Regions from separate parts of the Homo sapiens genome. Here region 1 is linked to region 2. Evidence: fine-mapped expression QTL. Tissue or cell type: whole blood. Region 2 holds a variant in brackets; the other region holds the start of a gene. All regions are shown on one strand. Distances are between the middles of the regions.

Evidence for each region. PIP is the estimated chance that this variant, and not a neighbour inherited with it, causes the effect.
Region 1: SMARCA4 starts here. The variant in region 2 is fine-mapped to the expression of SMARCA4 in whole blood (TOPMed, PIP above 0.99). The same link has a PIP of 0.9 or more in lung.

Annotation. Positions count from the first base shown.
Region 1 is chr19:10,957,550-10,965,549 of GRCh38, reverse strand. It overlaps SMARCA4 (SWI/SNF related BAF chromatin remodeling complex subunit ATPase 4), which reads right to left and starts at 4,520. Exons shown (of 35, transcript NM_003072.5): 1 at 4,376-4,520. RefSeq lists an enhancer at 1,506-1,635 and silencers at 4,153-4,212, 4,263-4,322, 4,373-4,792.
Region 2 is chr19:11,021,808-11,030,043 of GRCh38, reverse strand. SMARCA4 (SWI/SNF related BAF chromatin remodeling complex subunit ATPase 4) reads right to left here. Exons shown (of 35, transcript NM_003072.5): 19 at 8,077-8,236; 20 at 6,413-6,526; 21 at 5,606-5,713; 22 at 4,536-4,622; 23 at 3,698-3,744; 24 at 2,094-2,260. Among named protein-coding and RNA genes, the nearest start is that of LDLR, 64 kb to the left of the region's middle. RefSeq lists an enhancer at 1,400-1,900. The variant A/G (reference allele first, on the strand shown) is at 4,416.

The sequences.
Region 1 (8,000 bases), 64 kb after region 2:
CTGTTAAACAATGTGCAGCCATTAAGGACAAAATGGAGGAGCTGACTCCTTTGCTACCACTTTGAAACATACAGAACTTATGACTAGAGGAAAAAGTATATTATCTGTGTCATCCCACCAGGCTGTTGCAGGAATCCTAATAAATGATGAGCACTAACAACTGTTTAGCACTATGTGCCAGGCACCATTCTAAGCACTTCGCATTTGTCACTGGTTGTTCAGCTCTTGCAGCAATCCTACAAGCTGGGTACTAGTACTGTCCCCCTTTGCAAGTCAAGAGTGGGGTGTGAGCTACTAAGAACAGGACCCTTGTCTGCCTGTTCCCCATGGAATCCCCAGCTCCCCAGCAGTGCCTGGCACATGGCAGGCGCTCAATGCATGCTTGTTCGCCACATAAATGGGGAAGAGTGGCTGGGTCATTTCTTGCACAACTCCAGGGGGCACTATTCACATTGTGTTCTGTCTACAGGCACCATGAATGGGTCCTTCTGTGCCATGGCAGCCTTGATGACCGAGGGATGGAAAGACAAAACCAGGAGTCAAACCCAGGTGGTTGACTTGACAACCCTTGTGGAAAGAAAATAACCCTAGGCCTCAGTTTCCTTACTGATAGAAAGTTCCACCAGACTGGCTGGGCACGGTGGCTCACGCCTATAATCCCAACACTTTGGGAGGCCGAGGTGGGCAGATTACAGGAGGCCAGGAGTTCGAGACCAGGAGTTCTGGCCAACATGGTGAAACCCGGTCTCTACTAAAATACAAAAATTAGCTGGGCATGGTGGTGCACGTCCTTAGTCCCATCCACTCCAGAGGCTGAGGCATGAGAATCGCTTGAGACCAGGAGGCGGAGGTTGCAGTGAGTCAAGATCGCACCACTGCACTCCAGCCTGGGCGACAGAATGACTCTGTCTCATAAGAAAAAAAAAAAAAGAGGCCGGGCGCGGTGGCTCATACTTGTAATCCCAGTACTTTGGGAGGCCAAGGGCCAAGGTGGGTGGATCAGTTGAGGTCAGGAGTTCAAGACCAGCTTGGCCAACATGATGAAATCCCATCTCTACTAAAAATACAAAACTTAGCCAGGTGTGGTGGTGCACACCTGTGATCCCAGCTACTCAGGAGGCTGAGTCAGAAGAATCGCTTGAACCCGGGAGGCAGAGGTTGCAGTGAGACGAGATCGTGCCATTGCACTCCAGCCTGGGCAACAAGAGTAAGATTCCGTCTCAAAAAAAAAAGAAAGAAAGAAAGAAAGTTCCACCAGACATCTGCCCAAAACCCTAGTCCCTCCCATGCTCCCACCTCCCACAAACAGCCAAAACATGGAATGGTCTAAGGTTATCTCCTGGTGTTTTGAGGGTTCCCAAGGAGAAGCAAAGGTACACAAATAAATTGTAAATAAATACACATATGTTGGAATGCTCCTCACTGACAAGAAGTTTAGAGACCACTGCACTGCCCTATATCACAATTCTGATGACATCACCTCCCCTGCTCAAAAGCCTGCACGATCAACATTTACGTCTCCTAAAGGGCTGGACACAAAATGATTTTAGGTGGCCCATGCAAAACCATTTATTACTTTCCTAACTATGCATGAATTAATTTTTATTCCTTTTTTTAGACAGGGTCTCGCTTCGTCACCCAGGCTGGAGTGCAGTGGCTCAATCATGGTCCACTGCAGCCTGTACCTCCTGCCCCAGCCTCTCAAGGAGCTTGGGACTACAGGGGCATTGCACTCCAGCCCGGATGACAGAGCGAGACTCCGTCTCAAAAAAAAAAAAAAAATCAAGTGTTCACTACGCATCAGGTGCAGCAGTGTGTTAGCGGCTTCCCATGTGACCTCATTCAACCCTCACAAGAAGCCTGTGAAGTTTCGGGCATCCTCGTCCTACCTGTTTCACAAGTGGGGGGCCCTACTGCTAAGCGCCTCGCTTGAGGTTAAGCTACGATTTAGAGAGCTGGGTGTGAATTCAGGAGGTCTGATTCCAGAATGAGTACTCCTTACCACCACCCCACGCTAACCACCACCCCACACTTTGTAGGGGAGATGAGGACAACTGAGGTTCAGGAAACAATGGCTTGGAAAGTGCAAAAACTGTTCAAACAACTAACCTGTATCCCTTACAATCCACCCCCAGTCCTGCACCAAGCTTTCTTTTTCTTTTTTTTTTTTTTTTTTTTTGAGACAGTCTTACTCTGGTGCACAGGCTGGAATGCAGGGGCACAAGAATGGCTCACTGCAGCCTCCACCTCTCTGGCTCAAGCAGTCCTCCTACCTCAGCCTCCTGAGTAGTTGGGACCACCGGTGCATGCCACCACACTCGGCTAATTTTTGTATTTTTTGTAGAGATGAGGTCTCACTATGTTGCCCAGGTTAGTCTCAAACTCCCGGGTTCAAGCAATTTTCCCGCCTCAGCCTCCCCAAGTGCTGGGATTTCAGGTATGAGCCACTGCACCTGGCCCTGCACCAAGCCTTTTACACAGATGGTCACGCGATCTTCCACAGGACCCCCTCATTCAATCCACATAAGTTCGCTAAAGACCTACTATGTGTCAGGCCCAGGGTACTGTGGGGCCAGCCAGGCAGACACAACCCCAGCTCTCACGGTGCTGGGGGTGACAGCTACACCGGAAAGGACCAAGTTGATGTATGAATGTAGCTGAGGGGAACAATGGCTAGTCCGAGGTGGCCAGGGAAAGTCAAAATACAATCCTGGCGCAGTGGCTCACACATGTAGTCCTAGCACTTTGGGAGGCCGAGGTGGGTGGATCACCTTAAGTCAGGAGTTTGAGACCAGCCTGGCCAACATGGTAAAACCCCATATCTACTAAAAATACAAAAATTAGCCAGGCGTGGTGGCGGGCGCCTGTAGTCCCAGCTACTCAGGAGGCTGAGGCAGGAGAATCGCTTGAACCCAGGAGGCGGAGGTTACAGTGAGCGGAGATTGGGACTCTGAACTCCAGCCTGGGCGACAGGCAAGACTCTGCCTCAAAAACAAAATACAATCCTACACACCCTCCCTGATTTTGAGGCCCCCTCTTCCAAGCAGCCCCCGTGATCTCTGGCTACCACCGATCCCCTGCCTGTCCGCTGTGTCCCTCTCACAGTGCAGGTTCAGAGCAATAAACGATAGGCCAAGAGAGTTTGTTCCCACATTTACCACCCGCTCCCCTCCAAGACTGCAGAGGCTCCAGGATCCAACCCCCGACCATCCAACACTTAGTAGGGCCTCAAGAAGTTATCTGCTGAACAATGAGGGAGATTGGACCAGACAATTACAATAGTGCTTCCCGCTTGCGAGGAACCATTTTACAGGCTTTCACCAATTCCATTTGGGAGATTACCCCCTTTCACAAAGGAGCTTTCACAAAGGAGGAAAACTAAGAGGTTCAGAGAGGTTAAGCCACTTCCCTAAAGTGACAGTGTGCTAAGTGACTGACAGCACCAGGAATCAAGCTTGAATGCAGCCTATCAATCCAAACTGAAAACTTGCTTCAAATTCCTGCGAAGCGGCTTTTCCGCTTATTCCCTTGCTACTTTCCCCAAGGAGTCACTGACCAAAAAAAAAAAAAAAAAAAATCAAGACTGGTATCTTCAAGATCGGGACAAAACACTCGCCCAAAAGGTCCACGTTGAAAATAAAAGCCTTAATCTGAAAAACCAATTGGGAAGGAGAAAAAAGGATGCAAAAGAAAAGCAATGCTTTTACACAGCAAAGGATTTCCTCCGTGCTCCCCTACTTGCCGCCGACCCCATCCCCAACCCCAATTCGGGCAAACATTTTGAAGTCACTAACTGCAAGGCATCGGGGGAGTCCTTTACCTTTCCTTGAAAATCTGGAATGACACGTTTTTAAGACAATTTGAGGTCGGCTAGCCCAAGGGGACCGCTAATGCCCGTGTCCGGCCGACGCCGGACATATCTGGAGGTTTGGCTGAGCCCCGATCGCAGCTTCGCCAAAAACGCAACATTCGGGTCGGACCCGTTACCACGCAGCCAGAAAAGCCCCAACGCCTGCCTATTGTTGCAGCCGCTGTAATTGGGAGGGCGACTGTAGGGGTGCCGGGCGAGGGGGGCGAGCTTTGTCCGGCGACCCCGGCGAGAGCGCGCGCGGAGAGGATCGCGCGGCCTCCACGCGGCCCGGGCCCCCCACCCACCCCGCCGCTCCGCGGGGGCCGCCGCTGCCACGGCCTCGCGACACTGTGGCCTTCCCCACGCGCGCGGCTGCCGGCTGGGCTTCTTGACCCTCGGGCGCCGCCGTACCCCGGCCCCGCACAGGGCGCGCCGGCAGCCCCCTCCCCCCTCGGCGCCCCGGCTCCATTCAAACCGCCCTCCCCGGCCCCGCGCCGCGCTGCCCCCGCGGCCCGCGTTCCTTACCAGGAGCCGCCGGCGCCGTCGACTTCCCGGCGCCTCCCCCGCCCCTCCGCGCGGGGCCGGGGGCAGAATGGGCGTCTCGCTTCTCTTCACGAAACAAAGAAGCCGCCGCCGCCGCCAAACGAGGGGAAGCCTCGCGCGCGCGCCCGCCCGCCTCGGCCACCGCCCCCCCTTCACACACACGCGCGCCACCCGCGCCCCCGCTGCGCGCGCGCTCGCCGGCTCCCCTCCCCCTCAGCACCGCGGCGGCCTCTCCAGCTTCCGCCGCCTGCCCGGCCTCGTGCGCGCGCCAGCCCGCCCTTCCGCTCCCGGCGCGCGTGCGCGCCCGTCCCTGGGCGGACGGGGGTGGGCGTGGCCCGGAGGAAGCACGCGCGTCCGATGCACCGCCCCACTCGGGCCGCGATGGCCCCGCGCCTGCGCACGCTTCGCCTTCTGCACGCCTCGCGTCTTGACGCCCCGGAGCATGCGCAGAGCGGACGCCACTGCGGCGGCGGTGGCGGCGGCCGCGGTGACGATGGGGCAACTGGAGAATGGGATCCCGGTGGCCGTGGGGTCCGTGGGGAAAGGAGGTCCCTGAGGCTCGGAAATAGGAACCCTGGACCGTAGGACGGGCCGCCTGGACCAAGACCGGGCAGTGGTTTCCCGCGGGCCAAGGGCGCGCCTGGGAACCGCTTTGATCCCTGACCTGGGGCGGCGAGGCCTATTTGGGGAGGCAAGGCGGGGCCCGACCGTGGCCGCCTTCTCTGCAAAACTTCCCAAGTGCCATTAATTAGCTTAGCAAATATTTATTGATCTGCTACTGTGTCCCAGCCGCCGTGGAGCCCTCGGTCTAGTGGGGAAGGAGGACAAGAAGCAAGATTAATAAGCAAAATAGTGCAGTATGAGAGGCCGGACTTGGTGGCTCACGCCTGTAATCCAGCACTTTGGGAGGCCGAGGCGGCCGGATCACCTGAGGTCGGGAGTTAGAAACGAGCCTGACCACCATGGTGAAACCCGTCTCTATTAAAAATACAAAAATTAGCCGGGCGCGGTAGCTCATGCCTGTAATCCCAGCACTTAGGGAGGCCTAGGCTGGTGGATCATGAGGTCAGGAGATGAGACTATCCTGGCTAACACGGTGAAACCCCGTCTTTACTAAAAATACAAAAAATTAGCCGGGCGTGGTGGCACACGCCTGTAGTCACAGCTACTCGGGAGGCTGAGGCAGGAGAATCGCTTGAGCCCAGGAGGTGGAGATTGTAGTGAGCCGAGATCGTACTATTGCACTCCAGCCTGGGCAACAAGAGTGAAATTCCGTCTCAAAAAAAATAAATAGTACAGTGTGAGGTGAACACTGGGAGGATCATGGACATTTTAAATAGGGCAGCCACGGAAGTCGTCGTTGCAAAGAACACGTTTGAATGCATACAGGCTGGTGGTGAAAGAGAGAAACCTTCCTCCGAGAGTGAAGGCCCTGAGCCTCTTGGCCTCTTCTGTGTGTTTTCTTTTTTGTGTGTTTGTTTGTTTGTTTGTTTGTTTGTTTGTTTGTTTTGAGACGGAGTCTTACTCCATTGCCCAGGCTGGAGTGAGGTGGCACGATCTCAGCTCACTGCAACTTCTGCCTCCCAGATTCAAGCGATTCTCCTGCCTCAGCCTCCCGAGTAACTGGGACTACAGGCGTCCGCCACCACGCCCGGCTAATTTTTGTATTTTTAGTTGAGACAGAGTTTCACCATGTTGGCCAGGCTGGTTTTTAACTCCTGACCTCAAGTGATCCGCCCACCTCAGCCTCCCAAAGTGTTGGGATTACAGGCGTGAGCCACCTCACCTGGGTGGGTTTTTGTTTAATTGTTTGTTTTATTAGAGACAGGGTCTTGCTCTGTAACCCAGGCTGGAGTGCAATGGTGTAACCACAGCTCAGTGCAGCCTCAAACTCCTGGACTCAAGGGATCCACCTCAGCCTCCCAAATAGCTGTGACTACAGGTACATGCCACCACCACCAGCTTTTTTTTTTTTTTTTTTTTTTTGTCTGTTATGTTCTGTAGAGCTGAGGTCTGCTGTGTTACCCAAGCTGGTCTCAAACTACTGGGCTCAAGCAGTCCTCCTGGCTCAGCCTCCCAGTGCACTGGGATTACAGGCATGAGCCACCAAGCCAGGCCCCAGAAGGACCTGGGTTTAAAACACGACTCCATTTCTACTACCTGGGTGATGCATGGGTAATACCAGGCAGGTTTACCAGAGCATCTACACCTCACTTTCTTCACCTGTGAAACAAACAATAAGGCTGGGTGCGGTGGCTGACATCTGTAATCCCAGCACTTTCGGAAGCCAAGGTGGGCAGATGACCTGAGGTAAGGAGTTCGAGACCAGCCTGGCCAACATGGTGAAACCCCGTTTCTACTAAAAATACAAAAAAATTAATTAGCCAGGCATAGTGGCAGGTGCCTGTAATCACAGCTACTCGGCAGGCTGAGGCAGGAGAATTTCTTGAACCCAGGAGGTGGAGGTTACAGTGAGCCAAGATCATGTCATTGCGCTCCAGCCTGGGTGACGAGAGTAAAACTCCATCTCAAAAAAAAAAAAAAAAAAAAAAAATGCTGGGCCCAGTGGCTCACGTCTGTAATCCCAACACTTTGGGAGGCCAAGGCAGGTGGATCATGAGGTCAAGAGATTGAGACCATCCTGGCCAATGTGGTGAAACACCATCTCTACTAAAAATACAAAAATTAGCTGGCTGTGGTGGCGCGTGCCTGTAGTGCCAGCTACTCAGGAGGCTGAGGCAGAATTGCATGAACCCAGGAGGCGGAGGTTGCAGTGAGTCGAGCGTGCCACTATACTCCAGCCTGGTGACAGAGGGAGATTCCGTCTCAAAAACAAAACAAGACAAAACAAAAAAAACCCACCAGAAACAATAATGGCTCCCACTTCCACTGTTTGGTTATGAGGAATCATGACAGCAGGTAGCCCACCTGCTAGCTCTCTGATCCTCAGCTAGTGTTATTGAATAGTGCACAGTAAGTGAGCAAGTAGAAGTGGGATCTGAACTCGATTCCTCATTCATTCAAGTAGTTATTTTTTTGTTTTTTTGTTTTTGTTTTTGAGACACAGGCTTGCTGGGTCATCCAGCCTGGACTGCGGTGGCACGATCAGTACTCACTGTAGCCTCGACCTCCTGGGCTCAAGCGATCCTCCTGCCTCAGCCTCCCGAGTAGCTTGGACTACAAGGGTGGGACACCACACTCAGCTAATTTTCTTAAAATTTTTTGTAGAGACAGTCACACTATGTCGTCCAGGCTGGTTTCAAACTCCTGGGCTCAGGTGATCCTCCCACCTCAGCCTCCCAAAGTGCTGGGATTACAGGCGTGAGCCAAGGCGCCCGGCCAAATAGTATTTCTTATGCTCTCTCCAAATGCTAAGCATTGAGCTAGGAATACCCTGCAGCAATGCATGGAGGAGGCAGGGTTGCTGCCCATGGAGTGGATGGTATGACTGTTCTCTAATTGTCTTTTATGCTAATCACACTAATATGCAATAGTGTAAAGAAAAACAGGCCGGGCCAGGCGCGGTGCCTCACGCCTGTAATCCCAGCACTTGGGAGGCCGAGGCAGGCGGATCACCTGAGGTCAGGAGTTCAGGACTAGCCTGACC
Region 2 (8,236 bases):
TGCTGGGAGTTCGGACAGAGGTGCCCCTGAACACTGAAGTCATTTTGGTGATGAAATAAAAACTGGCAGGCCGGGCGCGGTGACTCATGCCTGTAATCCCAACACTTTGGGAGGCTGAGGTGGGTGGATCGCCTGAGGACAGGAGTTCGAGACCAGCCTGGCCAACATGGTGAAACCCCGTCTCTACTAAAAATACAAGAAAATTAGCTGGGCGTAGTGGCGGGCGCCTGTAATCCCAGATACCAGGGAGGATGAGGCAGGAGAATCGCTTGAATCCAGGCGGCGGAGGTTGCAGTGAGCTGAGATCATGCCACTGCACTCCAGCCTGGGCAACAAGAGTGAAACTCCGTCTCAAAAAAAAGAAGAAATAAAAACTGGCCATTTCCTGCCACCAGCCTACACATGCCCAGGCACGGTGCAGAAGCCCACAGTAGCCTGGCCATCCACCTGCCGTCCCACCCTCTCTCAGGCACCAGATGTGCCCCTGCTACTCCAGCTCGGAGGAGGGGCTGAGGTGAGGGGCCACCCGGCTCCCAGATGCCAGCCCACCCATGGGAGATGCAGTCTCAGGAGACTTCACTGAGCTCCTACCCTTCCTCTACTCGCAATGGATTCTCTGGCCCTGTGGCCATGACCACATCACATGCAGAGGACACATCTGTAGTTCAACTGACCAAAGTCCTTGTCCTTATGGAGTAGGCAGAAGGGCACTGGGATGGGTGGGAACCAGGCTCTCTCCTGGGGGAGTCAGGGACACGACACAGACGGGATGGCCCTCAGGAAGCCTTGGCCCTCTCGAGGACGGGAGAAGCCGCTGGAGAGACCGTAGGAGAGGAAAGGGTGGGGGGTGGCCCGGCCATGAGGACCCTGAAGGATTTTGGTTTTCAGCCTCAAAGCTGAAAGTGGGAAGCCCCCAAGGAAGAAGGCAAGCCGGGGAGACCCCTGCAACAGACTCGTGTCTGTAGAGTGGTCCTGGACAGAACCCCGGGGAGGACCTGCAGTTTGGAGGGACACACAGGGCACACTCCGGGTGGCACCTGGGCAGGTTGGCCCAGCAAACACAGGTCCAAGTGATCAACGGGACAAGGGGTATGGAGGTCTGGGGTGTCCTGCTGTGAGACAGACCTTGCACAGGAGCTTCAACAAAGGCTCTGGGAGGTCGTGTAGGGAACAACAAACTGGCTGAGCCGTGTCTGTCTCAGCAGCTCATGCTCGTGTTTCTCGTAAGCCCAGTTCTAGTAACTCCCACGAAGAACTCACTCCAGGGCTCCCTGACCCACTGGGACTGACAGACATGTCTCACGTGCCCTGTCGGCATCTCACAGCCTCTCCTCCCTGAGCTCCCGTGTGCTGGGGCAGGCAGGCGCAGAAACACAGGCGGTGACCTTTCCCATCAGGGACCGCAGGGCAGGGGGTTGGGCTGAGAGCCTCTCTACGGCAGCTGCTGCTCCTGCCTGGCAGTGCTTGCTTCCCTCCCTCCGTGCTCACCACAGAGTCTGATTCCAGGTCCAGGCCTGACCTGTGGCAAGGTGGCAGTCACTGGGCTGCTACGAATGGCCCAGGGATGGGCATGCGGCTCACAGCAGCTAAATGAGAGCCAGCCTGGGACCTGCCTTTGTTGGGGACACTGAGCAGGTGGAAAGGAAGCCAAGATGGAAGAAGGCAGAGCAAAGAGCTGGAGAAAAGTCTCTCCAATATCACCTGCATGCCTGGATCCAGCTGTGCCTGAAGGATGTTTAACCTCCTGGGGTTAGAGCTATGTAAGCCTATTGGTGCTTTCTTTCCTGTGTCCACATGGTATGGAATTCTGTCACTTCCAGCTAAAAGTGCACAGGGCACCCCTTCCCCAGTGCGCCCAGCATTGTCGTGGAAAGACTGTCAGCCTAGGAGTCAGGACACCCGGCGTCCAATCCACGGCCTGTCCCAGTGCCGAGTGCCCAAGATGCTCAGCCTGTGGCTAGGCCCACTCTGGCCACTGGACCCAGAGCGCCTGGGCCTCACCCTGCCTCACAGGAGGGAATGCCAGTGAGGAGCTTCTGTGGCAGCCACAACAACAAAACCCTGTAAGAAACGCCTCACTGGCTCATACTCACCATCAAGCCTGAGGTATTTAAAGCCGCGATACGCAAAGTAATCTTCCATGATGGTCATGAGGGAGGTCATTTGGCAGAACAGCAGCACTTTGTGGTTGGTTGCTCGGAGTTTGGGAAGAATTCTATCAAGAAGCTCAAATTTACCCGAGGCTCGGTACAGGTCCAGCCTGGAGTGTGGAGGAGGCAGGAGAGAAGGCGCAGGATGTTAAACCTGGAACCCTGCAGGCAGGTAAGGCAGGAGGTGCATCGCCCGCCTCCAGGCCAGGCGCCGGGTTCAAGGGCACAGACATGCATCCTAAGCAGACGTCACCCACCCAAAGCTTCAGCAAAGCCATTTCCCCCAACTGAAATAAGCCCGGCCACCCTCGCTGGGGAGGCGTATCACCAGGGTGGCACATGTATTTCTCGTCAAACCCAGACACTCATGAAAATGAGAGGAGCTGTGAGTCACATGGCCGGCACAACACGGGGCTGGAACAGGGATGCTCCGGGAAGCCAGACCTTGTCCCCTTGCCCGATAAAGAAGCCCCAGGAGCAAATGCCACACTGGAGACACCCATGCTCTGCTAGACCCAGAAGGAAGGGCCACCTCGGCTTCTCATGTTCTCTCCAGCCAAACCCCAAGTGTTGTAGATGTGGACACTGAGGCTGGCAGGGGGACGACGTGATATGGCTGACCACATGTCCAAGCCAGGCCTCCCAGCCTTGAAGCCAGGTGTACAGGACCCTGTTCCACAACTCAGTATAAAAAAACACATCAAAAAGAATTTGTGATGTTTTCATTAGGCGCCTCTCTTCTTGCAAATGGCTTACTACCCCAGGGGAATTGAATGGAGGCTTTAGCTGGAAGAATGCTTTTAGCAAGGTTCTTTGCAATGGTGAAAATCTAGACACAGCATCCACATCCATTAGGGGCTTAAAGGAGTCTGGGCTGCCCCTTACAAAGGGTGCTATAGAAAACACCCACATGATGTAAAGAGTGCCTCTGTACTAGTGAGCAGAGTTTAGGCTCAGAGAGGTTAAGAAAGCTGTCTAGAGTCACAGAGCTTGGAGGCGGCAGAGTGGGATCTGTAAGCCAGGTCTGCCTCAGGAATCCTGTCTCTTGGGGTTAATAGTGGTCAGCTCTCCAAGCACTAAAGATTTGTATAATGGGGCCGGGCGCGGTGGCTCACACCTGTAATTCCAGCACTTTGGGAGGCCAAGGCGGGTGGATCACTTGAGGTCAGGAGTTCAAGATCAGCCTGGTCAACATGGTGAAACCCCATCTCTACTAAAAATACAAAAAATTAGCTGGGTGGTGGCAGGTGCCGGTAATCCCAGCTACTCGGGAGGCTGAGGCAGGAGAATCATTTGAACCCAGGAGGCAGAGGTTGCAGTGAGCCGAGATTGTGTCACTGCACTCCAGCCTGGGCAACAAGAGCAAAACTCCACCTCAAAAAAAAAAAAAAAAAAAGATTTGTATTATTTGCTTTGGATTCTTCTGTATTTTCTAATTTTCTGCCTTTGAAATTGGACAACATAACAGCAGCAATAAAGCCAACAAAACGACAGAAAACCTCTGGGTGGACCACCTGCCCACCCCATCCAGTTGGGAAGCTTCTCACCCTTGGACAATGCCGCCAGTGAACCCCAAGTGCTCGGAAAAGGACTCCTGCAAGGCAAGGAGAGAGGGGTCAGTGACAGGCAGGAGCAGGCCACCGGGCCCCGCTGCGGTCCGCACACACCGCTCGTGCTCAGAGGACAAAGCCCCCACACTGTGTGCTCGGCACGGGCCCACGGCGGCTCTGAGACCAGACACAGATGCCAAAACCATCTTTCTTAGTCCACTGACATCCTTTCCCTCACACTCCTCCAACGAAGGAAAGGACATCCCATACAGCACTCTTCACACCCTGAATGCACGAGGACGTCATGGGGCCACAGCCACGCTCAGGGTGCTGAGACAGCCCCAGGGGCTCTCGGGGCAGCAGGCGGTCTCCAACGACCCTGACACTTTACACCAAGAAACACGAACATATGCATGCTTCTAAGAACCCAGATTCTCAAAGCCACCATGACCAAAAAGGGTTCTGACTCCCCCACACTTCACTGAAGACGGTGGTGACTCTTGACGCCCCGCAACGTGAGAAAAGCCAGTGAGCCAAAGAGACGCAGCAGGACCCCACTGTGGGGGGACACATCCCCAGAGAAGTCTCCAAACGCTCCTGCTCTCTGAGGGCAAGCTTTCAGGGCCCTATATTCCTATCGCACGTTGCGCCCTAACTGCTGGGATTCTTCCCGTAAGCACTGGTGAAGCGAAGACCAAATGAGAGACAGATGTAC[A/G]GGCATTACCTAATGAAAATATTCGAGTCTGTTTTTAAAGAGCTGTCGAGGAGAAGCCAGCTCTGCCTAGGAGCTCAGCAGACAGCAGGGCCTGAGCCGTCCCAGCCGCGGCGGGCTCACCTCGATGTGCTGGAACATGTAGGGGTGGTTGCAGATCTTCCGCAGCTGCATGATGGTGTTCATCAGGGTCTTGGTGCCGCCTTTGCCCTGGAAGGCAGATGAGAGGGACCCAAATGGGGTCTTGCCCTCCTGGGGTGGGGTGGGCTTGGTGGATGGGTGGGTGTTGGGAGAAGGGCCATGGGGACGCTCTAGTGGGGAAGAGTGGCTTTTGGCACAGCAATTGGGAGTGAGGAGATGGCAGGCTGGAGGCCCGGAGGCCCCCAACAAGCCCTGGGAAACAAATGACTGCCTGGCACAGCAGAGGGCAGATGGCAGGGACAGGGCCAGCAGGACGGGACGGAAACAAGACTGGCAAAGGGCTGAGGCAGAGTCCCCGATGCTTTGTGATGCCAGCTTTGTTCTGGGCACTGTTACTGTGGGGGTCCCTAGAGGGTCTCAGCTGGGCAAGAGGGCCTCAGCCGGGTGAGCCATGACTCAGGGCTCCCTGGGCTCCAGGATGAGGAAGGAGGTGGGGGCGGGGCGGGGGGTGCATGCTCTGGGCTGGGAATGGACTAGGGAACACACTGCTGCTCAGCTCAGGGGAGAAGGGGCACAGACACAACGTCTCGGGGAAGCCAGGCCGAGGTCAAGGCCTTGGGGGCAGAATCAAGGGGTCTGGTGCATTTCCTGGGAGGATAATTTCACTGCTGGTGAGGAGAGCCAGGCAGGTGGGGCCTGGGGCCTGGGATTCTCAGAGCAGCCCCTGCAGGAGACAGCCCGCTCCCTTCCTTTCACTTAATAACAGAGAAGGGGGGCATTCTAGAACACTCTAACCCTGCTGGGGTTAGTGCTGGGCCCAGGCTGCCAATTGCAGAAGGAGCCAGTGTTTCATAGGCAAAGGAGAAGCCACTGGCAGCTGAGTCAGTGTGTCCTGACACAAGCCACCAGCCATCATAACCAGGGCTGGCCAGATGCCCTGGGGATCATGACCAGATCATGACCCGATGGTCAGAGCACGCTCTGCTCTGCCTGCCACGCTGCCGGCCTTGGACACCCAGTGGGGAATGCAGTTGGGGGACTCTGGGGCCCACCTTCTTGTCCTTCTCGGAGCCATCAGTCAGCAGCACGCCCTTGGCCTGCATGTGGCGGTAGAGCACTCGCTGCAGCGCAGACATGTCGCACTTGATGACGTACTCCACCTGCAGGGGACACATAATGCTCACGAGGGCCCAAGGTGGCTTGAGGCCTGACTCCCCCCATCCGAACCCAGCTCTGACCCCCTCGGCCCTGTCATATGAGCTCTGACCAGAGCACACTGGGGTGTGGGTGAGGAGACCCTCACAGCTGGGGAGAAGAGGGGAGACCTGGGCAATGAGAGGAAGCACCAGGCAGAGATACCAGAGGGTTACTGGGCCAGAAAGGGCCCCCCAGCCATCTTCTGGGGGCCTCTCTACAGCCAGCCAGGAAACAAAGAGCCAAGAGGGACAACTGCAGCCGGGGACCCCGAGTCCATGGGTCTTGCTGTGGGAACTGGGCCCAGGGGTGTGGCTGCAGCAGGCCTTGAAAACCCAGAGCCATGATGGGGGGCCGGGGGGCAACCCCAAGCCCACGGCCCCTCCTGATGTGGCCAGGAGAGCCCGCACAGGCACCTGGCCCCCTGACAGGAAGTGGGATTTTGTGCTCTAACCTATTGTGAGCTATGTGAGCCTATGAGTGCTTTTCAATCCCTACAACAGCAGCACAGGGCTTTACAGACCCAGTGGCGTCATCGCCACCCCCAAGCTGGATTGACCAGGGCAGGCCTGGGACTGTGGGGAGAGGCCCTGAGCACGCCCAGCCCTGGAGAAAGCCCCCACGTGAGGCTGCTTCACTGGTGGCTCCCCTCAAAACTCCATCACCTTTTCGGGCAACTGGGCCTCGACTTCCTTCTTGAGTCGTCGGAGCAAGAAGGGCCGCAGCACTTTGTGGAGACGCCGGATGATGAGAATGGTTTCCTCCTCATTCAGGTCCACCTGGAAGCCCCCAAGACAGGAGAAGCAAGCGTTACCTCCAAAGGAGGGCGACAGAGGTCTCACTAGAAGGTGCGGATGTGGGGACAGGGTGGACGGGGTCCCCTGGGGTGATCTTGCCCTTGGCACGTGGCTTTTCAGCCTGCTTTATGCTTTCTGGGAGCCAGGCAGGGCACCCTCTTCCTTAGGAAACTGTGAGGATCTGGTTCCCTCCATGTAATTCCTGGGACATGGAACCGCAGTACCCAGAGCACTCTGCTCCCTGTGCCTCACCAGAAAGACCCCCGGCAGCGGGCATGCTGCTTCTCCACGAGTAACACAAACTGGAGTGTCCACAGACCCACCCCACGCCAAGCTCATGCCAGGAGCGCTGCAGGGGCCAGGCTGACCACATGGGGCTTATAGCGGGTGATTCTCAGGGAGGGCTCTGCCACCGGGAGCCCCAAGGGACTCTCATTCAGCCTGGGTGGAACCAGGTGAAAGAAACCCTGACCTCCCACGGCGCCTACTCCTCTACTAATAATTAACTTTTAAAATGTTTTAATTAAAAAAGTTAAAGGAAAATGAGACGACGCCAAAACTTTTCTTCTATTGCTTCCCTGGCAATCCTTTGGCAGAGCTTTTGCTCGGCTCAGAAAGTGACAAAACTATAGCATCAGATCCTGGCCCTTAGTGTGGGGGTCCCGGGAGTCTAAAAATTGGGGACTCCTTTATCACGAGGCTTTGGGGAATGCCTCGGTTTCGCCATCAGAAGAGTCTCTGCCTTGACCAGCAGCCGAGAGGGCAGGGAACTCACGCATGAGGCCAGGAAGGCCCCAGCTGCCCTGGACCTGTCTAAGGTGGGAAGAAGGGGGTGGGCCCAGCCGTGCTGGGCAGGGCACTTCGAGGTAACCTCTGTAGTTCTGCCCACACTTCAGCATCTGGTTACTTAAACCCCTCAGCAGGAAACACAGTCTGTCCCACAGTTTCAACCTCCAACAGCAAGGAGCTCTAGGCTCAGGGATCAGTGCTGGTGTGGGACCACTCATCAATGATGATGCTGCCATGCCACAGTCTGGCTGATGGTGCCACCCAGACATTGAGACACACTGGCCACTGAGCTTTTTGAAAACAACGTAAGACAGAACCTGACCATGTGGCCCCGCTAACTGGAATCTTCCAAGTTTCCTTCCCACTGCCCTGAGGGTGAGTTCTGAGGGCACCTAAAGGGGCCTACAGCACGCTACAGCCTCTAGCTGTGCTCTCCACACGCTTGCGGTCCCACAGCTGCCTCAGGGCCATCTTCCTCACCATCCACTCTGCACCTGGAGCATAGGGTCAGAGACGCCCCGAGCATTCCGAGATTCACCACCATGACCTCTGCCCTGCTCCCCTGGGGCCCTTGTGGCTGCCCCAGCCTTGGGTTCCAGGGCTCCCCTGCTCCATGCAGATGCAGACTCTCACCAGGCACCCAGCACAGGCCCAGCCAGCTGTAGCTGGTGCTCAACACGTTCCAACCAGCAAAGCCAGCCGCACCTGGAACCGTCAGCATGGGCACAGCTGGGCAAACCCACCTTTTCCCCGGTCATGGCAAAGGGTGCGTTAAACCACTGCTCGAAGGTGCTGCAGCTCTTGAAGATGGTGGGCAGCAGGAAGTTGAGCAGCGCCCAGAGCTCGGGAAGCTTGTTCTGCAGCGGTGTGCCCGTCAGCAGCAGGCGGCGGGGTGCCACATAG